7 separate regions of the Homo sapiens genome follow, and all the other regions are linked to region 4. The links come from fine-mapping of genetic effects on plasma protein levels. A gene starts in region 4. Each other region holds a variant in brackets. All regions are shown on one strand. Distances are from middle to middle.

Evidence for each region. PIP is the posterior inclusion probability: the model's chance that the variant is causal. The UK Biobank Pharma Proteomics Project read protein levels with antibody pairs (Olink). The fine-mapping took linkage between variants from a reference panel, not from the people measured, so its PIPs are less certain.
Region 1: its variant is fine-mapped to the plasma level of the PLA2G15 protein (UK Biobank, PIP above 0.99).
Region 2: its variant is fine-mapped to the plasma level of the PLA2G15 protein (UK Biobank, PIP above 0.99).
Region 3: its variant is fine-mapped to the plasma level of the PLA2G15 protein (UK Biobank, PIP above 0.99).
Region 5: its variant is fine-mapped to the plasma level of the PLA2G15 protein (UK Biobank, PIP above 0.99).
Region 6: its variant is fine-mapped to the plasma level of the PLA2G15 protein (UK Biobank, PIP 0.98).
Region 7: its variant is fine-mapped to the plasma level of the PLA2G15 protein (UK Biobank, PIP above 0.99). The variant lies in the coding sequence of PLA2G15. If it changes the protein, the assay may bind it differently, which can mimic a change of level.

The regions. Positions count from the first base shown.
Region 1 is chr16:68,258,869-68,262,932 of GRCh38, reverse strand. It overlaps PLA2G15 (phospholipase A2 group XV), which reads right to left. Exons shown (of 6, transcript NM_012320.4): 6 at 1,875-3,787. The coding sequence ends at 3,276. It overlaps LOC124903704 (a long non-coding RNA gene), which reads left to right. Exons shown (of 3, transcript XR_007065096.1): 3 at 237-272. Among named protein-coding and RNA genes, the nearest start is that of SLC7A6, 3.6 kb to the left of the region's middle. The variant G/C (reference allele first, on the strand shown) is at 2,036.
Region 2 is chr16:67,704,804-67,708,867 of GRCh38, reverse strand. The region is part of intron 1 of GFOD2 (Gfo/Idh/MocA-like oxidoreductase domain containing 2); the gene reads left to right. Among named protein-coding and RNA genes, the nearest start is that of GFOD2, 12 kb to the left of the region's middle. The variant C/T (reference allele first, on the strand shown) is at 1,578.
Region 3 is chr16:67,331,894-67,335,957 of GRCh38, reverse strand. All of the region lies in intron 1 of LRRC36 (leucine rich repeat containing 36), which reads right to left. Among named protein-coding and RNA genes, the nearest start is that of LRRC36, 7.1 kb to the right of the region's middle. The variant G/A (reference allele first, on the strand shown) is at 1,565.
Region 4 is chr16:68,243,566-68,247,629 of GRCh38, reverse strand. It overlaps PLA2G15 (phospholipase A2 group XV), which reads right to left and starts at 2,257. Exons shown (of 6, transcript NM_012320.4): 1 at 2,077-2,257. The coding sequence starts at 2,203. RefSeq lists enhancers at 1,291-1,791, 2,913-3,451 and a silencer at 2,208-2,437.
Region 5 is chr16:67,814,442-67,818,499 of GRCh38, reverse strand. The region is part of intron 2 of TSNAXIP1 (translin associated factor X interacting protein 1); the gene reads right to left. Among named protein-coding and RNA genes, the nearest start is that of TSNAXIP1, 9.6 kb to the right of the region's middle. RefSeq lists a silencer at 1,200-1,382. The variant G/A (reference allele first, on the strand shown) is at 1,703.
Region 6 is chr16:67,253,853-67,257,916 of GRCh38, reverse strand. It overlaps SLC9A5 (solute carrier family 9 member A5), which reads right to left. Exons shown (of 16, transcript NM_004594.3): 3 at 2,733-2,896; 4 at 2,446-2,524; 5 at 1,987-2,164; 6 at 1,228-1,448; 7 at 804-1,006; 8 at 483-572; 9 at 316-386. Among named protein-coding and RNA genes, the nearest start is that of SLC9A5, 6.9 kb to the right of the region's middle. The variant G/A (reference allele first, on the strand shown) is at 1,979.
Region 7 is chr16:68,253,648-68,257,711 of GRCh38, reverse strand. It overlaps PLA2G15 (phospholipase A2 group XV), which reads right to left. Exons shown (of 6, transcript NM_012320.4): 3 at 2,675-2,793; 4 at 2,332-2,430; 5 at 1,722-1,946. Among named protein-coding and RNA genes, the nearest start is that of SLC7A6, 8.8 kb to the left of the region's middle. The variant C/T (reference allele first, on the strand shown) is at 1,779.

The sequences.
Region 1 (4,064 bases), 15 kb before region 4:
ATTGCACTCCAGCCTGGGCAATAAGAGCGAAAGTCTATCTCAAAAAAAAAAAAAAAAAAACACCATATGCCAGCTCCGTCTGGCTTTGCAGTCTCATACCCAGTTACGTAGCCCATCAGCTGAAAGCCCAATGTACACCACACCCTGAATCAGATGTTCTCCAACACCATCAGTGTTCCTCAGGACCACCCTGCAGGATACATTTATTTGTAACCATTCTTTTCTTTTGCTTTTAGAGATCTTGCTGTTGCCCAGGCTGGAGTGCAATGGCTATTCACAGGTGTGATCATAGCTCACTGCAGCCTCGAACTCCTGGTTTCAAGCGATCTTCCTGCCTCAGCTTCCTACTTGGGACTACAGATTTATTTCATCTTTTTTTTTTTTTTTGAGATGTATCTCGCTCTGTCTTGCTCAGGCTGGAGTGCAGTGGTGCCATCTTGGCTCACTGCAGCCTCCGCCTCCCAGGTTCCAGTGATTCTCCTGTCTCGGCCTCCAGAGTAGCTAGGACCACAAGGCATGTGCCACCACACCTGACTAATTTTGTATTTTTAGTAGATATGGGGTTTCACCATGTTGGCCAGGCTGGTCTTGAACTCCTGACCTCATGTGATCCACCCTCCTTGGCCTCCCAAAGTGCTGGGCTCACAGGCGTGAACCATGGCGCCCGGCCTATTTCACCTTTAGAGATAAAGTCTTGCCCAGGCTGGTCTCAAACTCCTGGGCTCAAGCGATCCTCCCACCTTAGCCTCCTGAGTAGGTGGAACTATAAGCGTGAGCCAATGCACCCAGATGTCCCCATTCTTTGGATGAGGAAACTGAGGGTCAGGAGGCTCCCCAGACAACTTGGCTGGAGCTAGTAGAGCTGAGATTTGAACCCTAGTATGCTGATCCTTAAGCCTCCTCTGATTCCATGCCCTTTCTCTCTGCAGCTATGAAACTGAGGGTGATGGTGAAGCTAAAATGGGTCAGGGATGAGTGGGGTGCCATGAGTAGGGGGGTGTCAGGGCCAAGCAGGGAGTCAGGTTGGGCAGGGCCTGGGGTGAAGCTCCCTTTCATGTTGTCATCCTTTTACTGAGGCCAGAGCTGCAGCTGGACCCCAGTATTTTTACCACAGGCATTTTTACCCCCACTCTGGGTCACCTCGTCCTTCCAGGTTTGGCTAACAGGTGGTTCAGTGAGAGGGTTCAGGGCGCCCTCTTGTGGCCCCTGGTGTATCAAAGTCTGGCGCCCCAGCTTGTGGGGCTGAGTTAAGACAGAACTGGGTACCGGCTGGGCTCTGGACTACAAAATTCAGGCTGGGACCCTATCCCCTATCCATGTTTCCTTGGCTCTGTCTCTGTTTCTGTCTTTGTCCATACCAGTCTCAGCCTAGTAGTCTCTTTTCCTCCCTTGATCTCTCTCATCTGTACCTCCCCAGGGGTACAGATGGCAGGCTGATGAGCTGAAGATGCAAAGAAGGGTGGCATCCTAAAAAGAACTCTAGGTTCAAAGGATGCTGACACTTGCAAGCTGAGGGAGGACAGAGGCTGGGAAGGAGGGTGTAGCCAGGGTGACCTGCAGGACTGTCCTTGCTCCCAGCTCCTGGGTGGCATGTGGGGCCTGCTGACCAGGCAGGAGCAGGGGGAGGACAGGACCCCATTTCCACAGGAATGTTTCAGGTTCTGGTTCTTAGTCCCAGGAAGGGAACTGGATTCCAGGAGAGAGGACAGGAGGATGAGGTCCACAGAAGGGCACAGGAACCATGCTTTGATGCTGAGACAACCTGTCAAGGCTCCTGTAAAGGCCCAGCCCCTAATTTCCTGCCTCTGTAGCCACCTTGTACCTCCACCACCTCCCTCCCCTCATGCTCAGAGCAGAATGTAGGCCAGGGCACCTTACAGCATCCAGAGTACTTTTATTGCCAGAATCCAGATACAGCCTGCTCAGAGCCCCATGTGGGGCCACTCAGGAACAAGGGGAGACAGATGCCAGGCATGTATGCAACAGAGAAAATCCAGCTGCACAGAAACCCTGTGGGAGAGCAGCTCAGTCCAGC[G/C]TGAAGGCGTCTTTGGGAACCCCACCTAGAGGCTGTACCCTTTTCTCGGCCTGTGGCCAGTCACCCACTTAGAGCCTACTGCCATGAAGGCAGCCCTGACTCTCCATGCCTGCTGCCACAGGGAGATCCATGGAGCACCCTGGGGCAGACAGAAAGCCCCTAGGGGGGCCTCAGGGGACCCCTGGCTCTCTCAGGGTCCCATTCAAGTTTCTGGGCTAGTCCCAGCACTAAGCTGGGTGCTGGCCAGGGTGGATAGGAGCCCCATCCTCAGCCCTGTGCTGACCCACTTGGTACTAGTGAGACCCTAGGGCAGGGTGGCAGTGTGATGGTGGGGTTAGCAAGAGGTGCAGCTCAGGGAAGCTGCGAGCAGCCTTGGCTGCTTCCTTGGATTCCCTTTCTCCATAGGTTCCCAGAAGGCCATGGCTCCAACCCCTGCTCTCATCCTTGGAACCACAGTCCCAGGGTGAAGGGAGGCAGCTTCAGTCCTGGGGCCAATAGCACATCCGAGGAAATCAGGGCCCCTGGAACACAGCCTGCGGGACTGGGGGCACATCTGCTGCCCAATCCAGAGCTTGAATGCTCCTGGTGGTAAGGGAGGTAGGAGTGGAGTGAGATGTCCCAGGGCCTGGGAACCACGAAGAACGCAACAAACTGCCCCTGCCTGCAGGAGCTACTAGGCTCGCCCAGGAAGCCAGTCAGGCTGGCCACCAGCTAAGCCACAGGGAAGCCAGCAGCTCTAGCTACCCATGACCAGTGGCAGGCCTATCTGTGGCTGGTGTGTGGGAAGGGTCACCCGAGGGGCCAGGAGCCGATCCCTGGGACCTCTGGGTACAGGACCACAGCCCAGTAACATCCCTCATAGGAAGGCTGCGGGGCCAGGGCCCAGTAGGCAAGTATGAAAAGCCCACAGGAATAGGGGGGACACATGGCCCCAGGCAGGGACTGGGACCAGGGCCCAGCCAGTCCACCCTGTGGAGCCAGTCCTAAGGTCACAGCAGTTCCACCATCAGCAGCATTCTTGCCATCCAGTGTCCCTTGAGTCTAGACTCTCATTTCTTCCTTCTTCACTGCCACAGAGAAAGGATAACAAACAGCACTTCCCCATGGCAGATGCTTCACAGTCCAAGACTCGGGGCCTTGAATGGTGAGTCACAAACTTTGCAAAACGCGTGGGCCATGACAGCCCCAGAGGCCAACAGCAGGTCCACGGCCGAGCCACAGGAGTCCTGTGGCACAGGAGTCAGGGCCCAAGGAGCACACGTTTCAGATAGGCCAGGGTGGTGGCGTTGGCCAGCATCTCGATGTGCTCGCTGCCTGGCAGCTCCTGCAGCAACACTTGGTGCTCCTGGCGGCTCTGCCAGGCCTGGCACTGCAGGGCACTCTTCAAGTTCACAGTACCATCGCCGTCACCAAAGCAGATTTTAGGGTCACGGTCAGGGAAGCTCTCATAGTAGAAGGAGTCTGGTGTGGGGACGCCAGTACCATAGAGGCAGTGCAGCTGCACGCCAGGTGGCATCGTGGCTTCCACCAGCCCTTCTGTGTCCTGCCGCATGAGCCAGCCATCTTCAAAGCCGATGTCCTGGAAGAACTTGCGGTAGTCCCGCAGTGTGTAGTTGATTGTGGGTGTCTGCACGAACACCTTCTCAGGTGACCATGTGTAGTTGTAGGGCAGCAGCCAGCTGGTGGAGACAGCTGACCGCTGCTGCTCCCGGATCTTCAGGGGCCCGATGACTGGGATCCGGTTGTTGTCTCCTGCAGGGAGAAGGCTCTGGTCAGTCTGTGCTTAGGAATGCCAGCTGGTTGGGCAGCATGTTCACCACCAGGCCCCTGCCAGACCCCAGCCAGGGGCCCAGTCCACAGTCCCGCATCTCTACCCGGTTATCATCATTGTAATCACTGTGACTCCCATCCCTGCCTTGGCTCTTTTTTTTTCTTTTTGAGACAGGGTCTCACTCTGTTGCCCAGGCTGGAGTATAATGGCATGATCACGGCTCACAGCAGCCTCAACCTCTCAGGCTCAACCAATCCT
Region 2 (4,064 bases), 540 kb after region 4:
CAAATAAAGGGAATTCTACAGTATGGGTCTTGACACTGGCCTTTTGGAATGTGCCTGAGGGGACAGAGGTGTGCATCAAGTCTGTGGAGGTGCCTCTCAGGATGCAGTGCTCTGGAAGGTGTGGGGCTGGATCTGGGGCTAGTCTCATGGTGAGTGGCCCTTGAGGCACAGTGGAGGCTGACACTAAGTGAGGGCTTGCCACTCTTTCAGTGCCAAGTCTTATTGCCCAACCTGTATAGCTACAACTGCAAACTGATACATACCAATGCTCTATGAATAGCCATCATTAAATTTGCTTGCCAGAAATGATACGGGAGAACCCCTTTTGAACCCTCCCTTCCTCAGTATGAGTTGTTCATGAGTGGTGAGGACTTCCTAACATCTGGAGCTCAGCCACTCACCCAGTGTGACACACTGCCCAGGGAAAAGTGCCATCTTCAGATACGCTCAGCAAGTGCTGGGATTCACCAGCCTACTGGGCCTTAGCTTGAAGTTTCTTTCTCAGAAAACTTATTCTCTTGGCCCCAGCCTGTACCGATGATGTCCCCAAAAGTAAGCTTACAGGTTTTTTTGTTTTGTTTTAAAGGAAAGAGACTTCTAATTCACACATATCCATTTAGTTTGATTACAGAACTGAATTTGCAAGGTGTGAACAGGTTGTTCTATGTCCTTGGGCACAACTACTTAAGGTGATTAAAAATTAAGGTATAATTTACATACAATTAAAAACACAGATCTTAAATATTCAATTTGATGAGTTTTGACAGTTGTACCACCATGTAACCCAAGCACCAAACAAGATACAGAACATTTCCATCACTCTAGAATGTAGCCTTGTGCCTCTTTCTGTTCGATTCCCTCCGCCTCAGCCACCACCGCCACTGCCGCCTTCTGACTAGTGTTGCTATAAATAAGGCTGGCTTATTCCTGAATTTCAAAAAAGTGGAATTCTACAGTATGGGTCTTCTGTGTGTGGGCCTGCCATCTTTCACTCTACATAATGTTTTTAAGATTCATACAGGCTAGGCGAGGTGGTTCATTGTAATCCCAGCACTTTAGAAGACTGAGGCAGGGGGATCACTTGAGGCCAGCAGGTTGAGACCAGCCTGGGCAACACAGTGAGACTCACATCTCTACAAAAAAATTAATAAAATTTTTAAAAAGAAAAAAATTCATTAATAGTTAATTCCTTTTTACTGTTTTACTGTATTCCATTGTGTGACATCATAATTTATGATGTGAACATTTGTTTCTAGTGTGGGGCCATTATGAATAAGGCTGCTGTGAACATTTGTATAATTTTTTTTGTGGACTTATGTTTTTATTTTCTTAGATAAATATCTATAAGTGGAGTTGCTGTGATTGGGTTGATATATGTTTAACTATAAGAAACTGTCAATTTTCCAAAGTGGTTGTACTGTTTTACATTCCCACCAAGAATGTATGGGAGTTCCATTTGCCGCATATCCTCTCCAAACTTCAGGATTGTAAGTCTTTTTTTTTTTTTTTTGAAATGGAGTTTCACTCTGTGGCCCAGGCTGGAGTGCAATGGCGCGATCTTCACTCCCTGCAACCTC[C/T]GCCTCCTGGGTTCAAGCAATTCTCCTGCCTTAGCCTCCTGAGTAGCTGGGATTACAGGCATGCACCACCACACCAGGCTATTTTTGTATTTTCAGTAGACATGGGGTTTCACCATGTTGGCCAGGATGGTCTTGAACTCCTGACCTCAGGTGATCCACCCATCTTGGCTTCCCACAGTGCTGGGATTACAGGCGTGAGCCACTGCGCCCGGACATTTTTTTTTTTTTTTTTGAGATGGAGTCTCGCTCTGTTGCCCAGGCTGGAGTGCAGTGGTGCGATCTCGGCTCACTGCAAGCTCCACCTCCTGGGTTTACACCATTCTCCTTCCTCAGCCTCCCGAGTAGCTGGGACTACAGGTGCCCACCACCATACCTGGCTAATTTTTTTGCATTTTTGGTAGAGATGGGGTTTCACCATGTGTTAGCCAAGATGGTCTCAATCTCCTGACCTCATCATCTGCTGATTTGTTGGAGTTCTGCAGACAAGTCCTTTGTTACATATATATTCAGCTCATATTTTTTCCCAACCTGTGGCTTGCATTTTCATTTTTTTAATGATGTATTTTAATGAGCAGAAATTATTTTAAATTTTGAAATCCAGTTTTCAATGAGTTAGTGCTTTTTGTGTCCTGTCCAAGAAATCCTTACCCCATGATTTCAAAAAGTACTCTCTGATGTATTTTTCTAGAAGCTTTATGGTTCTGGCTTCTACATTTAGGTCTTTGATCTGTCTTGAATTAATTTTTGCATATAACAGTGAGAGAGAGGGGTTAAGGTTGTTTGCCATATGGATATCCAATTGTTCCAACATCATTTCTTAAGAAGAATTTTTTTCCCCATTGAATTGATTTAATGCTTTGGCTGAAAATCAGTTTACCGCATTTGTGTGACTTGCAGGGTAAAGATAGTATTACAAGGCTGTAACTTTGTCTATAGAAATCTCTAATGGCTCTTTTTAAAAGCCCAGCACTGAGAAATAAAAAGCATATTTTGTAATTTAAAAAAGTATGGTCAGGCCAGGCGCAGTGGCTCACACCTGTAATCCCAGCACTTTGGGAGGCCGAGGCAGGCAGATCTCACAAGGTTAGGAGTTCAAGACCAGCCTGGCCGATGTGGTGAAACCCCATCTCTACAAAAAATATGAAAATTAGCTGGGCGTGGTGGCACGCGTCTGTAATCCCAGCTACTCAGGAGGCAGAAGAATTGCTTGAACCCCGGAGGCGGAGGTTGCAGTGAGCTGAGATTGCACTACTGCACTCCAGCCTGGGTGACAGAGCAAGACTCCGTCTCCAAAAAAAAAAAAAAAAAAAAAATCACAGGGAAAACCATAACAGGCACTTTTTTTTTTTTAAAGATAGAGTTTCACTCTGTTGCCCAGCCTGGAGTGCAGTGGCGTGATCTCGGCTCACTGCAACCTCCGCCTCCCAGGTTCAAGTGATTCTCGTGCCTCAGCCTCCTGAGTAGCTGGGACTACAGGCATCTGCCACCGTGCCCAGCTAATTTTTTGTATTTTTAGTAGAGACGGAGTATCACGATGTTGGCCAGGCTGGTCTCGCACTCCTGACCTCAAGTGATCCGCCCGCCTTGGCCTCCCAAAGTGCTGGGATTACAGGTGTGAGCCACCACACCCAGCCTATTACAGGTACATTTTTTAAAAGCTTGGATGGAACCACCCAGGCTCCATTCATCTATAAATTTCTGAAGAGCTAGCTCACTGCTGCTAATAGGATCGGGGAGACACAATCCCAGAACAAGTAATGACACTTGAAAAAACCTGTAGGTAGGCTGGGCACAGTGGCTCACGCCTGTGTTCTCAGCACTTTGCGGGGCTGAGATGGGTGGATAACTTGAGGCCAGGAGTTCAAGACCAGCGTGGCCAACTTGGCAAAACCCTGTCTCTACTGAAAATACAAAAATTAGCTGGGCATGGTGGCACATGCCTGTAATCTCAGCTACTTGGGAGGCTGAGGCAGGGGAATTGCTTGAACCTGGGAGGCGAAGGTTGCAGTGAGCTGAGATCATGCCACTGCACTCCAGCCTGTGCAACAAAGTGGGATTGTGTCTAAAAAAAGAAAAGAAAAAACTGGCAGGTGATCAAAAGTATTCTTGAAGATATACTGAGAGGTATTTAGGATGAATAATGGATACCATGGCAGGGAAAACAACTATTCAACTCCTATATTTCTCTTTCATCAGAGACCCAGCTGGAAGGACCATGTGCAGGGAAGGTAGCATACCCAGTGCCCAGTGGGTTTGTTTCCTCTGATCAATTTGAATTACATCCCACGGGTCTCAGAAAAGTAGCAGCTGACCATGATATACTCCATAAACTACTGTCAATAAGCCTTGAGGCATTGTGGAGCAGAGGCAGGTGCCAGATGATAAGCGATACACAATGTCTGTGATGTTTGAGCCTGATGCTGGTGATTCCTCAGAACTATGCAAGAACATCTCATCAAACAAATGATCCCTGAGCACCTAGAAAGA
Region 3 (4,064 bases), 910 kb after region 4:
GGGTTTGAGACCAGCCTGACCAACCTGGAGAAACCCTGTCTCTACTAAAAATACAAAATTAGCTGGGCGTAGTGGCACATGCCCGTAATCCCAGCTACTCGGGAGGCTGAGGCAGGAGAATCGCTTGAACCCGGGAGGTGGAGGCTGCCGTGAGCCAAGATCGTGCCACTGCATTCCAGCCTGGGCAACAACAGCGAAAGTCTGTCTCAAAAAAAAAAAAAAAGATCAGTGGTTGTCTGTTGCGGGAAGTCAGGGACCCCAAACAGAGGGACCAGCTGAAGCCATGGCAGAAGAACATAAATTGTGAAGGTTTCATGGACACTTATCACTTCCCCAATCAATACTCTTGTGATTTCCTATGCCTGTCTTTACTTTAATCTCTTAATTCCGTCATCTTCGTAAACTGAGGAGGATGTATGTTGCCTCAGGACCCTGTGATGATTGCATTAACTGCACAAATTGTTTGTAGAGCATGTGTGTTTGAACAATATGAAATCTGGGCACCTTGAAAAAAGAACAGGATAACAGCAATGTTCAGGGAACAAGAGAGATAACCTTTAAACTCTGATTGCCGGTGAGCCAGGTGGAACAGAGCCATATTTCTCTTCTTTCAAAAGCAAACAGGAGAAATATCGCTGAATTCTTTTTCTCAGCAAGGAACATCCCTGAGAAAGAGAATGCATCCCTGAAGGGAGGCCTCTAAAATGGCTGCTTTGGGGGCAGATGTCTTTTATGGTCACAGCTGTAGGATGAAATAAGCCCCGGTCTCCCGTAGTGCTCCCAGGCTTATTAGGACGAGGAAATTCCCACCTAATAAATTTTGGTCAGACCAGTTGTCTGCTCTCAAATCCTGTTTCCTGATAAGATGTTATCAATGACAATGCGTGCCTGAAACTTCATTAGCAATTTTAATTTCACCCCGGTCCTGTGGTCCTGTGATCTCGCCCTGCCTCCATTTACCTTGTGATATCTTATTACCTTGTGAAGCATGTGATCTATGTGACCCACCCCCTATTCGTACACTCCCTCCCCTTTTGAAAATCACTAATAAAAACTTGCTGGTTTTATGGCTCAGGGGGCATCACGGAACCTGCTGACATGTGATGTCTCCCCCAGACACCCAGCTTTAAAATTTCTCTCTTTTGTACTCTGTCCCTTTATTTCTCAGGCCGGCCGACACTTAGGGAAAATAGAAAAGAGCCTACGTGAAATATCGGGGGTGAATTTCACCTGATAGTTGTCAGGGGTTTGGGGTGAGGGAGGGATAAACAGATGGTGGGGCACAGGGGATTTTTAGGTTAGTAAAACTGTTATTATAATGGTGGACACGACTGGCCAGGCACGCTGGCTCATGCCTGTAATCCCAGCACTTTGGGAGGTTGGGGCAGGCAGATCACCTGAGGTTGGGAGTTCGAGACCAGCCTGGCCAACATGGTGAAACCCCGTCTCTACTAAAAATACAAAAATCAGCCAGGCATGGTGGCACACGCCTGCAGTCCCAGCTACTTGGGAGGCTGAGGCATGAGAATCACTTGAACCCAGGAGGCGGAGGTTGCTGTGAGCC[G/A]AGATCGTGCCACTGCATTCCAGCCTGGGCAACAGAACAAGACTCTGCCTCAAAAAATAAAAAATAATGGTGGACGGCCAGGCGCGGTGGCTCACGCCTGTAATCCCAGCACTTTGGGAAGCCGAGGCGGGCGGATCACGAGGTCAGGAGATCGAGACCATGGTGAAACCCGGTCTCTACTAAAAATATGAAAAATTAGCCGGGCACAGTGGCAGGCACCTGTAGTCCCAGCTACTCGGGAGGCTGAGGCAGGAGAATGGTGTGAATCTGGGAGACAGAGCTTGCGGTGAGCCGAGATCCACGCCACTGCACTCCAGCCTGGGCAACAGAGTGAGACTCCATCTCAAAAAAATAAATAAATAAAAATAATAATAATAATGGTGGACACGACATAATTGTCAAAAACCATAGAACTGTACAACACAAAAAATGAGCTCTAATGTAAACTATGGACTTTAGTTAATAATCGCATCAATATTGGTTCATAAATTGTAATATATCACAATAATGCAAGATATTAAAATTAAGGGAAACGGGGTGGGTGGGGAGAGGTGCAAGGAAGGTAAGCGTATATGAGAACTCTCTGTACTTTATGCCCAATTTCTCTGTAAACCTAAAACTGCTCTAAAAAATAAAGTCTATTAATTTTTTTAAAAAAGGAATGAAGTATTAATACATGCTAAAACATGAATGAATAATGAAAATACTATGCTAAGTCAAAGAAGCCAGACAGAAAAGGCTACATATTATATGATTCCAATGATATGAAATACCCAGAAGAGGCAAATCCACAGAGACAGAAAGCAGTTTACTGGTTGCCAGGAGCCAGGGGTAGTGGGAAATGAGGTGTGACTGCCTAATGGGTTGATGAAAATGTTCTGGAACTATATATAGGTAGCAATGATGCTTGCACAACATTGTAAATGTACAAAATGACCCTGAATTGTATATTTTTTAAATGGGGCTACGTGTGGTGGCTCATGCCTGTAATTTCAGCACTTTGGGAGGCGGAGGCAGGTGGATCACTTGAAGTCAGGAGTTCAAGACCAGCCTGGCCAACATGGTGAAACCCTGTCTCTACTAAAAACACAAAAATTAGCAGGGTATGGTGGGACGTGCCTGCAGTCCCACCTACTCAGGATGCTGAGGCAGGAGAATCACTTGAACCTGGGATAGAGGTTGCAGTGAGCTGAGGTCGGGCCACTGCACTGCAGCCTGGGCAATAGGGCAAGATTCTTATCTCAAAATAAATAAATAAATACTAAAACGGTGAACTTTATAGTATGTGAATTATATCTTTTTAAAATGCACCCATCTCTACAAAAAAAGAAAAAATTAGCTGGGCATGGTGGTGCACACCTGTAGTCCCAGCTACTCAGTAGGCAGAGTCAGGAGGATTGCTTGAGCCCAGGAGGTCGGGACTGCAGTGAGCCATGATCATGCCACTGCACTCCAGCTTGGGCAACAGAATAAGACCATGTTTTTTTTAAAAAAAAATAAATAAATAAAATAAATAAATAAATAAAATTTTCCTGACTTTGAGGGCAGTGTATTGGTAATTCTGTGGTATGTTATGATCTAACACCCTGAGAGTCTGTTAACATGGGACAAAAGCTAAGGACAATTATGGTTTCCATCAATGACCCACAGCATTTCTCATGCCTTTCACTGCAGTCTATTTTGAAGAGCAGACATTTTAACATTTTAAGAAGGAATGTGAATTATTAAAATGATAAACTGCCACAAAGACAAACATTCTTTAATGATTCACATGAATGCATGTCTTAAGAGGTTATGCATTTCGTTTCAGTGTTTATTTATTTATTTATTATTTTTTTTTGAGACGGAGTCTCGCTCTGTCACCCAGGCTGGAGTGCAATGGCACCATCTTGGCACACTGCAAGCTCTGCCTCCCAGGTTCACGCCATTCTCCTGTCTCAGCCTCCCAAGTAGCTAGGACTACAGGCGCCCACCACCATGCCCAGCTAATTTTTTTGTATTTTTAGTAGAGACAGGGTTTCATCATGTTAGCCAGGGTTGTCTCGATCTCCTGACCTCGTGATTCGCCCTCCTCAGCCTCCCAAAGTGCTGGGATTACAGGCGTAAGCCACCGCGCCTGGCCGTTTCAGTGTTTATAAAGAGTGAAGACAAATCAGAGAACAAATCAAACACTGCACAGCATAGATGCCAAGAATAAAAGAATGATCTTCCAATTTTAATATATGGGTTACATAACCCCAGTGGGCAAAAATTTGCTATTTGAAAATAACAAATCAAGTAGTCTCTCTAATGAAAACCATTTACAGCTCATTTGGAAATTGAATTAACAACCTTTAACAAAGCTTATTTATAATGACAATGAATGTTTCTAATAAATAAAACTTTTTCTTTTTCTTTTTTTTTTTGAGATGGAGTTTCGCTCTCTTTGCCCAGGCTGGAGTGCAATGGTGTGATCTTGGCTTACTGCAACCTCCGCCTTCAGGGTTCAAGCGATTCTCCT
Region 4 (4,064 bases):
TCTGGATGACATGCCTGTGGACTGGGCAGGGCAGGGCAGAGACCCTGGTCACTGTCTCTACCAAAGGGGAAATGGTAAAAGAGGAAGTCACCAGATCTGCTTTGCTCAGATGCTCCTTACCCTGGTCAGGCTGTGTGGCCCCTAAAAATAGCAGTGGCCACTTCCTGAGCCCATCTGCGCCTGGAACTAGGAAAAGAGCCATCCACATGCCTTTCACCTCAAGTAACACTGGGAGGGGACAGCCTTACTATTTCCACTTAACAGATGGGGAGACTGAGGCTGCAAGAGGTGGAAATGGCCTTGCCTATGGTCCCTTCCCCTTGCCCAGGGTCTTCTGTATCACATCGCTGGTCTCTCTTTCCTCCACCACCATTTCAGGATCCACCCCTAGAGGATTCTGATCTTCTGACAGTCAAGGTCAGATCCCTGCTCTGTGCCCAGGAGCTGCTTATCCAACTGCCCACCGTGAGGTCTCCCAGGGCTAAGGCCAGCAGCCTCACTCCCTGAGAAGCTGGGCATGTTAGGACTCCTGCTGCTCTGTGATTCTGGGTGGGGTCTGAGGCTCTTCTGCTGTGACCAAGGATAAACAGACTGACTGAATTGATGAGTGCGGTTAGCATCAATCCAGGCAAAATGGCTATGTGCCATTTTGTGTGCCACAGACCACATGCTTCCTAATGCCACGCCCCTCAGACTTAGAACTCTGCAGGCCAACCCAGGACTCCCTGAGGCCCTCAAGATAAAGTTCAGATGACCCAACCAGTCACAAGTCCTGTGCAGTCCACTCCTCCTGTGACTCGATCCCAGGCAGCCTGAGATGCTCACGTCTCTCCCCGACCCATTACTCTCTCCTGGCCTTAGCTCCAGCTATATACTCCAGGAAGCCTTACTTGACACCCACCCATCCAGGCTGGGTTGGTGGATTCTCTGTGCTTGCCCCACACAGACTTCCTCTCTGGGGATCACTGTTATTCCTATCCTGCAAGCTTTGGGGAGGCAGGGCCAAGTCTGCCCAAATCCCATGGTGAACCTGGGCCTAGTATCCCCCTGGAGCTTTTCCTGGCTGGGAACTCCTGGTGGGGCCTGCCTGGCACCACCCTACCTGCCAACTCTACCCTTCTGTGATTTGCATCGTCCCCATTTAAAGTACTCTCAGCAGAAAGAGCATGGAGATCATGCTGCACTAGACTCCACGTGTAATTCATGCCTCAGATGCCTCTGCTTTCAGGAATCCTGGCTGGCCACGGACACACCAGCTCTGGATGGGAGTGACGGCCTCAATGAGGCACCCAAGGCCCCCCAGACAGAGGTCTCATCCCTGCCCATCCCTGCAAGGAAATACAGTGGCCGTTGTAGAGTTGCCAGGGTTGTGATCAAGGAGCGGGGTGAGCAGGGGAGGTCACCGAGCCTCCACATAGTCTAGTCCAAGCATGTGTGGCAGGGTAAGAGTACAAGCATGTTGCCTGACACAGGTTCATGGCCATTGTCCCAACCCTTTCCCCTGACTTCAGTTGTCTTCAGTTTCCCTTAGGCCTTTTCCCTCAGGCAATGCCACACATCTGATAAGTTGTGGGAGTTGGTGGCCAGCTAGGACAGCAATCCTTTCCCTAAGGAGGTTCCTTTCAGCAATGCCTTCTGGCATATGTGGCATTGGAGGGGTCGAGGGTGACAGCCTCCTAACCAGGCCCAGGTCGATGCAGAAGTCAACTCAGGAGCCACTCTACACACCCCCACCATCCCTCAGGAGTGGGGCTGAAGCACCTGTCTTTCCAGCTTAAAAATGGGATAAGGGGAGGCAAGGCTTGGGAATGATGCGGACAGGTGGAACTATGAATAACCAGATGGTAACTCTCCCACTCACCCCCATTTTCTACCAGGACAGGAGGTGGGGAGCTGACCACACCCGCGCCCAGCATGGCGGGAGGTGAGCCGGCAGATCTAGATCACCTAAGTGACAAGACAGATACCAATACGCTCCCCCATTTCGTGACTGGAACAGAAGCAGACCGGGAAGGCAGCCCCGCCCGCGGCCCGTCCCGCCCGACCGACAGATCCACCACGAGACCCGTGCCTCACCCAGCACCACTGGGGGGTGACGTCCGGCCGGGAGCGCTGGGTCCGCGAGCAGCATTAGCAGCAGCAAGAGGAACAGGAGGCCATCCGGGAGCAGCCCCACACGGTAGGGGCGGAGGTGGAGGCCCATGGTGTACGACGGTCGCCGCAGGTCCGGGATGCAGGTTCAGCTCTCTGGGCTCTCGCCTAGGCGGGGGCGGTGGCGACGCGCTTAACCCCGCCGCCCGCATCCCCCGCATCCCCCCGGCCAATCAGGGCCCGCCTCCCGCAAATGGCTGGCCAATAGGGACTCGCCGCCATATACGCCCCTCCCAGTCGGAGGTCGCCGCCCCGCCCTTGCCCAACCCCCTGCTTCCTGGACCACGCTGAGCGCCGAGCGCATCGATGGATCGAGGTATCGCCTGGCTCCGGGCTGTCAGTCGCCCACCCGGGAACCCAGCTCGCCGCTGCTGTACCCCGCCCAGCCCTGGGTACCCGAAATCCACGCTGCGCAGCTCTCACTTGGCGACCCCCTGACCTGGAGGATCTGGAACGGACAAGACCGGGAGAGGATAAGGGGTGCAGCGCTGGCCGCTGCTGAGCGACCCCGGTTAAAGCAAGAAGAGAGGAAGTGAGTCCCGGACAGTTCTTGGGCCTCAGGTGACCAGGAGCTGACCAGGACCTTTGTGCAGCCCCCACACCAATTCTTAGCACACCCTGCCCCGAGGGCACCTGGGTGCGGCCAGTCAGCCCCTGTAACTCTGCCCCGGGGTTACAGATGCGGGGGGAACCGGGAGAGGCCAGGTCAGCATGTTCAGTTCCCAAGAGAGGGGTTAATCTGTTCGTTTTAGGGGCGCAGAGTGCAGCGTCACCCCGCCAGTCCGGGCAGTTCGGGCGCGGGGTTGGGAGTGGGCTTGAGTCTCGACCCTGCGCCATGGGCCATCTGCAAGTTCCCCTGCAGAGCAGGAGAGGCATCGGGAGCTCGTGGTCCCCCTCCACTCTCGCAAACCTGGGGAACCAGAGAGGACATGGACTCCCTGCGCCAGGAAGCAGGGGCGAACAGAGTGGGCAAAGACCTGACAGCTGGTTATATGCCAGCACCATAGGTCACTGTGGGATAGAGGGACGAGAGTATTTGGGAAATAGAGGTCTTGATCCTCCACACACCCACCCCTTCGAAGGGGCAGCTGCACCCTGGTCATCCCACCTGGTCCCAAGAAATTTGTCCTGCCCCTTCCTTCCTTCTTCTTGGTAAGCAGCTGACCTGGCTATGAAGCCACTATCTTGCCCTGCCCTTCTCGAGTTCTTATAGTGAAACATGTTGGTGACTGGGCTACCACCACCCTCCCTCTTTCTTTTTTCTTTTTCTTTTTCTTTTTTTTTTTTTTTTTGAGACAGAGTTTCGCTCTTGTTGCCCAGGCTGGAGTGCAATGGTGCAATCTTGGCTCACCGTAACCTCCGTCTCCCGGATTCAAGCAATTCTCCTGCCTCAGCCTCCCGAGTAGCTGGGATTGCAGGCATGCGCCACCACCCTGGCTAATTTTGTATTTTTAGTAGAGACGGGGTTTCTCCATGTTAGTCAGGCTGGTCTTGAACTCCCAACCTCAGGTGATCCACCTGCCTCGGCCTCCCAAAGTGCTGGGATTACAGGCGTGAGCTACTGTGCCCGGCCCCTTTTTCTTTTCTTTCCTTTTTTTTTTTTTTTTTTTTTTTTTTTTGAGAAAGGGTCTCTCTGTCACCCAAGTGCAGTAGCACAATCACGGCTCACTGCATCCTTGACCTCTCAGGCTCAAGCAATCCTTCCCACCTCAGCCTCCTGAGTAGCTGGGACTACAAGTGTACACCTCCAAGCTCAGCTAGTTTTTTATTTTTTGTAGAGTTGGGGTCTCACTATGTTGCCCAGGCCAGTCTTGAACTCCTGGCCTTAAGTGATCCACCTGCCTCAGCCTCCCAAAGTGCTGAGATTACAGATGTGTGCCACTGTGACCAGCCCCACCCTCTCTTAAGGTCCA
Region 5 (4,058 bases), 430 kb after region 4:
TGTCACCCAGGCTGGAGTGCAGTGACCCAATAACACCTCACAGTAACTACAAACTCCCGGGCTCAAGAGATCCTCCCACCTCAGTCTCCTGAGTAGCTAGGACTACATGGGCACACCACCATTCCTGGTTAATTTAAAAAATCTTTTTTGTAGAGATGAAATCTCCCTGTGTTGCCAGGCTGGTCTCAAACTCCTGGTCTCAAGCAGTCTTCCTTCTTTGGCCTCCCAAAGTGTTAGGATTACAGGTGTGAGCCAGCCTTGTTTTTCAGAATTTTATTTATTTATTTTTTTGAGACTGAGTCTCGCTCTGTCGCCCAGGCTGGGGTGCAGTGGCACAATCTCTGCTCACTGCAGCCTCCACCTCCTGGGTTCAAGTGATTGTCCTGCCTCAGCCTCCCGAGTAGCCGGAATTACAGGCGCATGCCACCACGCCCAGCTAATTTTTGTATTTTTAGTAGAGATGGGGTTTCACCATGTTGGCCAGGCTGGTCTTGAACTCCTGACCTAGTGATCTGCCCACCTCAGCCTCCCAAAATGCTGGGATTACAGGTGTGAGCCACTGCGCCCGGCCCAGACTATTTTTTATTATTTGTTTTTATTTATTCATTTATTTTGAGACGGAGCCTCACTCTGTTGCCCAGGCTGGAGCGCAGTGGCACTATCTTGGCTCACTGCAACCTCCACCTCCCAAGTTCAAGCAATTCTCCTGCCTCAGCCTCCCGAAGAGACTGCAGGCACGCACCACCACACCCGGCAAATTTTGTATTTTTAGTAGAAACGGAGTTTCACCATGTTGCCCAGGGTGGTCTTGAACCCCTGACCTCAGGTGATCCACCCACTTCGGCCTCCCAAAGTGCTGGGATTACAGGCGTGAGCCACCGCGCCCGGCCGTTTTTCAGACTTGTAAAAGACCAGTCCTTGGCCGGGCGCGGTGGCTTACGCTTGTAATCCCAGCACTTTGGGAGGCCAAGGCGGGCAAATCACGAGGTCAGGAGACGGAGACCATCCTGGCTAACACGGTGAAACCCTCGTCTCTACTAAAAACGCAAAAAATGGCCGGGCGCGGTGGCTCACGCCTGTAATCCCAGCACTTTGGGAGGCCGAGGCGGGTGGATCACGAGGTTAGGAGATCGAGACCACGGTGAAACCCCGTCTCTACTAAAAATACAAAAAAAAAAAAAAAATAGCCGGGCGCGGTGGCGGGCGCCTGTAGTCCCAGCTACTCAGGAGACTGTGGCAGGAGAATGGCGTGAACCCGGGAGGCGGAACTTGCAGTGAGCCGAGATCGCGCCACTGCACTCCAGCCTGGGCGACAAAGCAAGACTCTGTTTCAAAAAAACAAAAAACAAAAAAAAAACCGCAAAAAATTAGCCAGGTGTGGTGACACGTGCCTGTAGTCCCAGCTACTAGGGAGGCTGAGGCAGGAGAATCGCTTGAACCTGGGAGGTGGAGGTTGCAGTGAGCCAAGACTGTGCCACTGCGCTCCAGCCTGGGCGAGGAGCGAGGCTCCGTCTCAAAAAATAAATTAATTAATATTAAAAAAAAAAAAAAAGACCAGTCCTCGTGTTCTGTCTACTGTTTCTACCGGGAGAAAATGTGGCTACCCTCCTTTGCTTGCAGAGGCGAGTGGAAGCTGGAGAACCAGCTGCCAGGGCCGGGTCTCGGCTAGGTTATTAACAGCTGAGGGATCTCCGCCCGGGTG[G/A]CTGGAACGCAGTGCTCCCGGGCGCTCCGTGCTCTCTGCTTCCCCCTGTAGGTAAAAACGGGAAGGCGGCCCCGGAGGGACGGCGGGAGGGAACACTGCCCCCTGGTGGTTGATGCCGCGCAAAAGAAAGAATGAAAAAGCCTGGCCCACAGAAGGTGGCAGCTGAGAAGGGTGCCCGGGAGCCTCAGAGCTCTCCCCTAGTCATCAGGTTTTTGGGCTGCGCTTGGTCTCTGCGAATAATCCATACTGACCCCTCCTTTCTCCTCCCTGGAGTCACTCCCGCAGGGGTGTTGGGAGTCCCCAGCCCCACAAAGTGTGTGGCCCATGTGTTTCCAAATTCCCCACGAGGGTCAGGGTCACAGAAGGAAAACCACCATACAGCCCATGCTGTTCCACTGTGAGCCAGAGTTGTAAGTTTACTCAAATGTGTTTTTTCCTTTATGAGATTTGGACAATGGCTATTTGCTGATTAATAACAATCCTATGATCATATCAACAAGAGCCCAAAAGTACTTAATAAGACAGCATTGGGGCCAGGTACAGTGGCTCACGCCTGTAATCCCAGCACTTTGGGAGGCCGAGGCGGGCGGATCACGAGGGCAGGAGATCGAGACCATCCTGGCCAACACGGTAAAACCCCATCTCTACTAAAAATACAAAAAAAATTAGCCAGGTGTGTTGGCGGGCGTCTGTCCCAGCTACTGGGGCGGCTGAGGCAGGAGAATGGGGTGAACCTGGGAGGTGGAGCTTGCAGTGAGCCGAGATTGCGTCACTGCACTCCAGCCTGGGCGACAGCGAGATTCCGTCTCAAAAAAAAAAAAAAAAAAAAAATTAGCCGGGCATGGTGGTGTGCACCTGTAATCCCAGCTACTCAGGAGGCTGAGGTAGGATAATCACTTGAACCCAGGAGGCGGAGGTTGCAGTGAGCCGAGATCGCGCCACTGTGCTCCTTCCTGGGTGACAGAGCAAGACCCCATCTCAAAAAAAAAAACAGTATTGAGCTCAGTGTGGTGGCTCACACCTGTAATCCTAGTGCTTTGGGAGGCCAAGGAAGGAGGATAGCTTGAGCCCAGGAGTTCAAGACCAGCTTGGGCAACGTAGTTAGACTCTGCCTCTACAAAAAATGCAAAAAATAGCCAGGTGTGGTGGCGCACTCCTGTAGTCTCAGCTACTCAGGAGGCTGAGTGGGAGGATTGGTTCAGCATGGGAGGTGGAGTCTGCAGTGAGCTGTGTTTGTGCCACTGCACTCCAGCCAGAGTGTCAGAGCAAAACTCTGTCCCCCCCTGCCAAAAAAATTAGCTGGGTATGGTGGCATGTGCCTATAGTTCCAGCTACTTGGGAGGGTGAGGTGGGAGGATCACTTGAGCCCTGGCATTTGAGACTGCAGCGAGCCATAACTGCACCACTGCACCACTGCACCCTGACAGGCAAAAGCCTGTCTCAAAAAAAAAGATGGCATTCTTTTTTTTTTTTTTTTTTTTTTTGAGATGTAGTCTTGCTCTGTTGTCCAGGCTGGAGTGCAGTGGTGTGATCTCGGCTCACTGCAACCTCCACGTCCCAGGTTAAAGCAATTCTCGTGCCTCAGCCTCCTGAGTAGCTGGGACTACAGATGCACCACCATGCATGGCTAATTTTTATATTTTTAGTAGATATGGGGTTTCGCCATGTTGGCCAAGCTGGTCAAACTCCTTACTTCAGGTGATCCGCCTGCCTCGGCCTCCCAGAGTACTGGGATTATAGGCATGAGTCACTGCGCCCGGCTCTTTTTTTTTTTAATTTAAATTTCATTTCTCTTCTGATACCTTTGGTACAGCATTCATTTTTATATACAAACTTTAAAAAAGAGGAATGGCGGAGAGATCCGGAGTGAACATGGTAGAGACGCATCTCTTTCCTCCTGCCTTCACACACCTACTCAGCAATTATGGAGCTATCAACATTTGGCAGACATTCAGGTAGCCTGTTAGATTCTAGGGCCATAAAGATAGAAAGATACAGTCACAGCCATGAAGGACCTTGGCAGATCTGGTGTGACCGTCCCAGCAGGTAGCACAGTGCCTGGTGTGTTGGCGGGAGGGATGAGAGGTAAGGGCCGCTGCAGAATGCTGAGCTGCTGGGGAGGGATGTCTGTGGGCAGAGGCGAGTTCTCTCTCTGCCTAGGGAGATCCGGGAAGGCTTTTCAGATAAGGAGCAGGCAGCCAGTGTACACCCTTCTCCCCAAAGCCTGGTGGGCCTGGCCTCTCTGAGCCACACTCTCTAACTGAGAAGAAGCCACTCTGGTGGGCATGTTTCAGGTGGGCATGTTTCAGGTGGGTGGTACTCTTGGGTTGCAGGAAGGGAGACGGATAGGGTCTGG
Region 6 (4,064 bases), 990 kb after region 4:
GCCAGGCTGGGGGAGCATGGTGGGTCCTGAGGATCTAAGACAGGGTCCATGGAATTAGCAGGCAGACAGTCAAAGACAGAGCAGAGCATGATGAGGCTGGAGTCTGGCAGTTGCCAAACCATGCAGGGCCAAGCAGGCCACACTGGGGAGCCTTGTCTTAACCTGAGAGCACTGGGATGCCACTGAAGGGCTTCAGGCAGAGGTCACCCAGCCTGAACCTGGCTCTGTCCCTTCTCAGAAGTGTGGCACATCCCCCATGCTTCCCTGGCTGGTGGGGCTGCTGCTGCTGAAGGAGCCTCGGGGCAGCTCCCTCACCTGTCCCTCCAGTAGTGGTAGCCATGGTGCCCCACAACGTCCTCCACTGCAGCCAGAATGTGGTCAAAAGTCTAGAAGGGGGGTGGGTAGGGGGACTGGATCAGGACTCTGCCCAAAATAGGAGAAGGTCGAGAGGGACAGGCGAGGGCTGGGGTTCTGATACCCACGTGTTCATGCAGCTCCTGGTTCAGGGTGGGTTTGTGATGCTCACTCCTCTTCACCTTCAGCCATTTGACCAGTGGCTTGATGGTCAAGCCCTATGGACAGGCAGGAGGTGAGCCCTGCCCTATTCCTATTCAGTTCCCTGCTGCCTTTCTCTCCCCGTAATGAGGCTTCAGCTTCAGTACCCCTACCCCACTGCACTCAAGGTCTGGGAAGTCAGGGCCCTCCATCTCCCAGCGGGAAGAGAAGCCCCTGTCCCACAGGCTCCAAGACTCCCCCAGGGCCTGCCCAACCCTCTCCCTACCCAGCCTTGTGGGCACTCCCACCTGCACGATGACTGTGAAGAAGACCACTACAATAGTGGTGGCTACAAAGTAGTCCTTGGCAGGGACCTTGGTCCTATCCAGTAGGATGACGAGAGCAAAGGCCACAGCCCCCCGCAGGCCCCCATAGGACATCACCACTTGGTCAATCTTGTCCAGAGGGACTAGCCGGAACTGATTCAGCACCCAGGTCTGCAGGACTACGCCTACAGCGGGAGGGAGGCCAGTGGGAGCAAAGCGTTGGGAGTGGAGGACGTGGGACCGGATGGGACCAAGTATCTGGGCTGAGGTCTAACAGGGGCTGGGACAGGTGAGCAACAAGAGGAGGCTTAGGAATTGACAAAGATGTGGACTCAGATAGGGAGATGAGCTGCAGGGAGGGGCGGGACAGGAAGGAGAGTGGGAAAGCAGAGGGTGCCAGCAATACCGAGGGCTCGGAAGAACAGGATGAAGATGAGGGTGCCCAGCACCAGCCCAGAATCCCAGGCCCACTTAGAAGAGTCCACGGCTGAGATGCCAAGCAGCATGAAGATCACGGTCTCAGCACAGCTGGCTAGAGTCTTCATTGTATATTTGACAGTTGTGCGTGACTTATGGGAGATGTTGGCCTCCACGTACTTCTTACAGCCCAGGCCACACATGGTCACCCTGGGAGAGGATGGAGAGACATGGCAAGTGGGGAAGGGTTCCAGGGGGCTCAGCCTCCAGGGTTTGAGCATACTGCAGGAGGGGGCATTGCCCATTACAGGATGTCAGACTCTCAGAGCTGAAGCCCAGGGAGGCCTGAAGACTTGAATGGTAGTGCTGGGCTAAGAGTCCAGATCTCCAGGCTTCCCATTCAGTGTCTCCTGGAAGGGAAGGTGGAAGGAACGTGCTCTGACTAGCGGGCTCTCTAATGCACCTTCTGGAGTGCTGCGGCCTCCAGAGCTGGTGGCCCCAGGCCTTAAAGTCTACTTCCAGCCCAGCCTACACCCAGAGGGTTTCAGGGTGCTGAGGACAGCTCTGGGGGCAGCTCCTGAAATATTGCTGAGGTTTACTGACTCCCCAGGACAGTCTGAGGCTCCCACTACCACAAGGGCTCAGGGAAACCTATGGACTCCTGAAGTTCCTGCCTGTGTCCCTATGAGGGGCAACCATCTCCAGTGCCCCCTCCCAGCTATCTGCCTGCAAGGCCCCCA[G/A]AACTCACGCAAGAATGGCGGAGAGCGAGGCCATTTCAGCAGTGAGGTAGGCTGCGTAGGCGAGGAGGAAGACCAGCAGCGGCTCGATGATGCGGACCCGCTTGGTGAAGCGTGTGGTCAGGGCCAGGAGGAAGGCAAAGACTAAGCCCACGGCTGCCCCGCCCAGACTGACCACAAACAGGGAGGCTGGGGGAGGAGTGGGTTGTCAGCATGACCCCTGGCCCGGACCCTACCCGGGCTGACAAGACTGCTGCCTGGCAGGGAGTGAGGGATGATGCCCACCGCACTCCCAGGGGCTCAAAACCCCAGAGCCAGGATCCCTGGCAAGCCCCTCCCAGACCCCATTTCTCTATAGAGGAGATGAGGCAACCCGAATAGCCTCTTCTGTCCTGATGCGGGGTGGGAGGGCCTCAGCAACCCAGGGGAGGCAGACCTCCAATGCCAGCTGGGAGCGGGGAAATACTGACCGACTCCCTTCAGGTAGTCAGTGGCCTGCACATTGGCAGAGCCCATCTCCACAAAGGAGTTGCAGACCTTGTACAGCACCTGAGCGAGAAGAGGAGAGTCAGCAGTGAGGCGGGAAGGCAGCAACTGGGACTGCTGGGAGACAGACTGCTGGGAGAGCAGGGTGAAAGCAGACAGCATATTTCTGCCCCAGGGGACCCAAGGGAAGGGACTGAGTCTGCGCAGACCCCTAGTTGGTCAGAGCATGCAGCCTGGGGTCAGGGAATGGCAGTCAGCTGAGCACGCTCACCACGGTGACAGCATCGTTGAGCAGGGACTCGCCAAAGACGATGATAAAGAGAGTCTCATTGACGTGCACCTCCTCAAAGACAGCTAGCACGGCCACGGGGTCCACCGCCGAGATGAGGCTCCCAAACAGCAGGAAGTCCAGTAAGCCAGCCTGCACCCTAGGGGCTATTAAGGGACATGTGTAGGACAGGCCAGTCATTGAAGACGACCCAGTCTCCTGGAGCACGCCCTGGAACAAGCCCAGGCCCCACCCCTGCTGATAACAGCAAGGAAGCCCAAAGAGGACTTGGGATGGCAAAGACAGCATTAGCCTGCAGATCAGGAGACTTCAGTCAAGCTACCTATGCCTAAGGTCTGGCTTTGCCACTTACCAACTGTGTGATGCTGGTCCGTCACTGTCATGTGGCTCACCTTAGCCATGCCTCCTCATCTGCCTGCCTCACAAGATTGTTTCAAAACTCAACCCAGCCATTTGGAATAGGGAAAAAGCCCAGGTACAGTGACTCATGCCTGTAATCCCAGCACTTTGGGAGGCCGAGGTGGGCTGGATCACCTGAGGTCAGGAGTTCAAGACCAGCCTGGCCAACATGGTGAAACCCTGTCTCTACTAAAAATACAAAAAGTAGCCAGGCGCAGTGGTGCAGGCCTGTAATCCCAGCTACTTGGGAGGCTGAGGCAGGAGAATCACTTGAACCAGGGAGGCGGAGGCCGCAGTGAGCCGAGATTGTGCCACTGCACTCCAGCCTGGGTGACACAGTGAGACTCAGTCTCAAAAAATAATAATAAATAAAATAAAATAGGGAAAAAGCACTGTAGCAACAGTAATAATAACTACCAGCAAATGGAAATTGGCTGCTAACTATTTTTATTAGGGGGAATAACAAAAGAGAGTGCTTTCTCCCACACCTGTGGTTCCCGGCCAAAGGGATGTGACACAATTCTCAGCAGGTGTGGAGAACTGAATATAGTAAGAAAAGCAACACAGATCGGACTTGAATATGTCATATAATTTCTATGAGCCCCAGTTTCCCCATGTCTAAATTGAGACTAATAACAATATCTACCTCAAAAAGTTCCTTAGCCAATGCCTAACATATAGTAAGCACCCAAAAGATATTATTATCTATTACTGTTATTATGATCTGATGTCCTCCCTTCCCTTCCTGCCCCAAATAGTTCACTACCTCAATAGGGAAACCAGGTTAGAGTCCCAGGTAGCAATTGTAAACGTTTTCTTGTAATACCTTGGAAAAAGTGTGAATCATTAACCTTCAGGGTTGAATGAATTTCTTGGGTTAGGAAATAAAGAAGGTAGCAAGAGAGGGCAACCTAA
Region 7 (4,064 bases), 10 kb before region 4:
AGCCAACTCAGAGTCACTGGGCCTGACCCAATCACAATGCCAGTAGACCAAGCAGGTCAAGCAGTGGCAGGCACTTGAGCTCATGAGATGCTTGGCACAGCCCTGGCTCATAGCTCCCAAAGTGAGGGTCCATAAGCCTCCCCCAAGTCCTAGCAGAGGGAGGAAAGCTCCCTTCTAGAGGAAGAAGCTCTACTCTACAGCTGCAGCTGGTGAGCTGCAACAGTCATGAAAAGACGGGGGAGGAGCCATAAAAGGGGTGGCTTTCCCAATTGCCAGGCAAGCAGGCCCAGCCAGATCTGCACCTGCTTCCTCCCTGTGTTGCCTACAGAGGCTCCGTGCTGCCCACAGATGGAGGCGCAACTCATAAATAAAAAACTGTAGTCTAGAGGCCAGGTGCAGTGGCTCATCCTTGTAATCCCAGAACTTTGGGAGGTCAAGGTGGGCAGATCATTTGAGGTCAGGAGTTCAAGACCAGCCTGACCAAAATGGTGAAACCCCATCTCTACTAAAAATACAAAAAAATCTGGCCGGGTGCGGTGGTTCATGCTTGTAATCCCAGCACTTTGGGAGGCTGAGGCAGGCAGATCCTCCTGACTTGAGGTCAGGAGTTAGAGACTAGCCCGGCCAACATAGTGAAACCCAGTCTCTACTAAAAATACAAAAATTAGCCGGGTGTGGTGGTACGCGCCTGTAGTCCCAGTTACCCGGGAGGCTGAGGCAGGAGAATCACTTGAACCTGGAAGGTGGAGGTTGCATGAACCAAAATCACGCTACTGCACTCCAACCTGGATGGCAGAGTGAGAAAGACCCTGCCTCCAAAAAAAAAAAAAAAATGCTCTAGCCTTCCTCCTCTGCGGTGAAGGTGGGGATGAAGAAGTAAGGATGGGGTAAGAGGGAGGGATGGCCAGGCACAGTGGCTCACACTTGTAATCCCAGCACTTTGGGAGGCCGAAGCGAGTGGAACATCTGAGGTCAGGAGTTCAAGACCAGCCTGGCCAACATGATGAAACCTCATCTCTACTAAAACACAAAACTTAGCCAGGCATGGTGGCGGGCACCTGTAATCCCAGCTACTCAGGAGGCTGAGGCAGAATCGCTTGAACCCGGGAGGCAGAGGTTGCAGTGAGACAAGATTGCACCACTGCATTCCAGTCTGGGTGACAGAACCAGACTCTGTCTCAAAAAATAAAAATTAAAAAAAAAACAGGGCTGACCCAAGAGAATAGTCATTGTGGAGACCAAAGCAACTCCATTTTGGATACTAATCCACCATGTTGGCTTCTGATTAACCCCAGATCCAGGAAGGCCACTGAGATTTCCACTTTATCTACTGTTTCTTGTGCACGTACTTAACCATAAATCAAAACAGCCTCTGTGTTATCATCCTTCAATGTTCAACACATCGCATCGGAGTCGCCCTTTCCCTACAGAATATAAGCTCTGGGTCTGGGGGCTAATAGTGTGGGGATCCACCATCTTGTCTTGCCCCCACCTGAGACACAGATGTGGCTTCTATTCGTATGTCCCTATTAAATGCTTTTCTCTGAGAAACTAGATTTGTCAGCCTCTTTCTTCTTTGGACTTTTAGGGGTAGATTTGCATAGACCCCACACACCGTGGGACAGACACGAGGCATGCTGGCCCAGGAGGACACTTAGGAAGGGAAGAGAGGGCAGAATTCCTGGCAACAGCCCCCCACGCTGGGCCAGGTAGGGTCTTACCTGAAGCCAGGACGCGCAGGGTCTTGGCCACGCCCCCCCAGGGCGCACCCAGTGACA[C/T]GAAGGCCCGGATATACTTGTCCTTCCAGGCCTGCGGCTGCCGCTGCAGAAAGTAGAGCGTGTACATGTTGCCCATACTGTGGGCAACCAGCACCACGGGGCCCCCATACAGCTGGTACATCTCCTCGATCATCTCGCGGAGGGCCAGGAAGTAGGGCCCGTTTTCATCTGCAGGCCAGAGCCAGGCAGGGGTCAGGTGGGAAGGGTCCTGGAGCCGGAACCACTGAGCTTTTCTCAGGCCAGACACAAGACGAGAGGGGGAGGGGAGGGTGCTCACATTCAAACAGAGCGGTCTGGGTCCCCCCGCCTTCCATGAAGGGAGGAAGCCTTATATTTCTCCCCAGGGCTCACAGGCCCAGAGGTCCCAGGGTGGGAAATGGAGGACAGGATAAGACTGACCAAAGGTGGTGGCTGTGACCACTAGACTGGATGCCAGAGGCCCAGGGACAGGAGACAGCCAAGGACAAGGGGAGAGCCCAAGGTCTGTGGTGCCCATGATCACCTCACCCCTACCTCCCGAGACGTCAGGGAGGGAATGAGAGTGCCTGCTTACTTGGGGCTCGGCGCCAGTCATAGGGAGCCCCTCGGACATCCTCACCCCGTGTGTAGCCCCAGCCCACAAGGCTCTCCACCATGGTGTGGAAATAGGAACCTGTAGACAGAAATACAGAGGATAAGAAAAGATACAGCTAGTGCCGGCCACCTACACTATGCCCAGCATGGAGACTGTGACAGCTAGCAGGTCCTTGGAAGAATGCTACAGGGCTCTGTGCCCACGCTGATCAGAGACAGCTCACAGGCTGTCCCTACAAACCAGCAGAGTTCCTCCAGCTCCAGCTCCAGTCCGGCAGAAACCCCATCCCAGCTCCCGGAGGCCTTGAGTAAGGGCTACATACCCACGCTGCTTTTGCTGGGGTCCAGGAACTCCAGTGAGAAGGTCTTCCCAAAGCCAGGGACACGTACATCCACACCATCAGGAAACTGGGTGGCCCTGGATGTTTTGTTGTAAACCAGCCTGTTGTGAGAGGATATTGAGCCAGTGACCCGGAGGGGACACTGAGCTTGGTGTGTCCCAACAGTGCATCATGTCCTGAGTCATACTCCCTTCTCATGCCCAGGTTTGGTCAGATGGATAGGAGAGACCGAAAAGTAACAAAGCAGGTTGATAAAGCACAGATCACCTGTAATCCCAGCACTTAGGGAGGCTGAGGTGGGAGGATCACTTGAGGTCAGGAGTTTGAAACCAGCCTGGCCAATATGGTGAAACCCTGTCTCTACTAAAAATACAAAAATTGCCCAGGTGCAGTGGCTCACGCCTGTTAATCCCAGCACTTTGGGAGGCTGAGGCTGGCAGGTCACCTGAGTGAGGAGTTTGAGACCAGCCTGACAAACATGGCGAAACCCCATCTCTACTAAAGATACAAAATCAGCCGGGTGTCGTGGGAGGCGACTGTAATCCCAGCTACTCAGGAGGCTGAGGCAGGAGAATCGCTTGAACCTGTGACACGGAGGTTGTAGTGAGCTGAGATCACACCACTGCACTCCAGCCTGGGCGACAGAGCAAGACTCTGTCTCAAAAAAATAAATAAATAAATAAATAAATAAATAAATAAATAAATAAAAATAAAAAGCACAGATCAGAGTAATTACATCCAAATGAGGACCCCACCAAGGCATACTTACTCCAAATACTGACCCCAGGACCCCTGTCAAAGCAACATTCCCCTCTCCCCCGTGACCCTACTCTAGAATGAGGGTCTTGGACCTGGTTGGGAGAAGGAAGTACCAGTCCTGATTCTGCCGTGAACTTCACACTGGACCCCAAGAGGCAGTCTACCCTCTTTCAGCTTTCCATCGCTCCATCTCCTTGCATCCAGCTCCTGCCAGCCCAACGTATCCCAGGTGAAGGAGGTGGTGAGTGCAGTACACAACAGAACCAGACAGGGGCCGGGTGCAGTGGCTGACACCTGTAGTTCCAACAATTTGCAAGGCCAAGGTGGGAGGAATGCTTGAGGCCAGGAGTTCAAGGCCAGCCTGGGCAATACAGTGAGGCCTTGTTGCTACTAAAAATAAAAAATTAGCCAGGCATGGTGGTGCAGGCCTGTGGTCCCAGCTACTTGGAAGGCTGAGGCAGGAGGATGACTTGCACCTGGGATATTGAGGCTGCAGTGAGCCGTGATCATGCCACTGCACACCAGCCTGGGCAGCAAAGTAAGACCCTGTCTCAAAAAAAAAAAAAAAACAAAACAAAACACACTAGGCCAGGCACAGGGGCTCACGCCTATA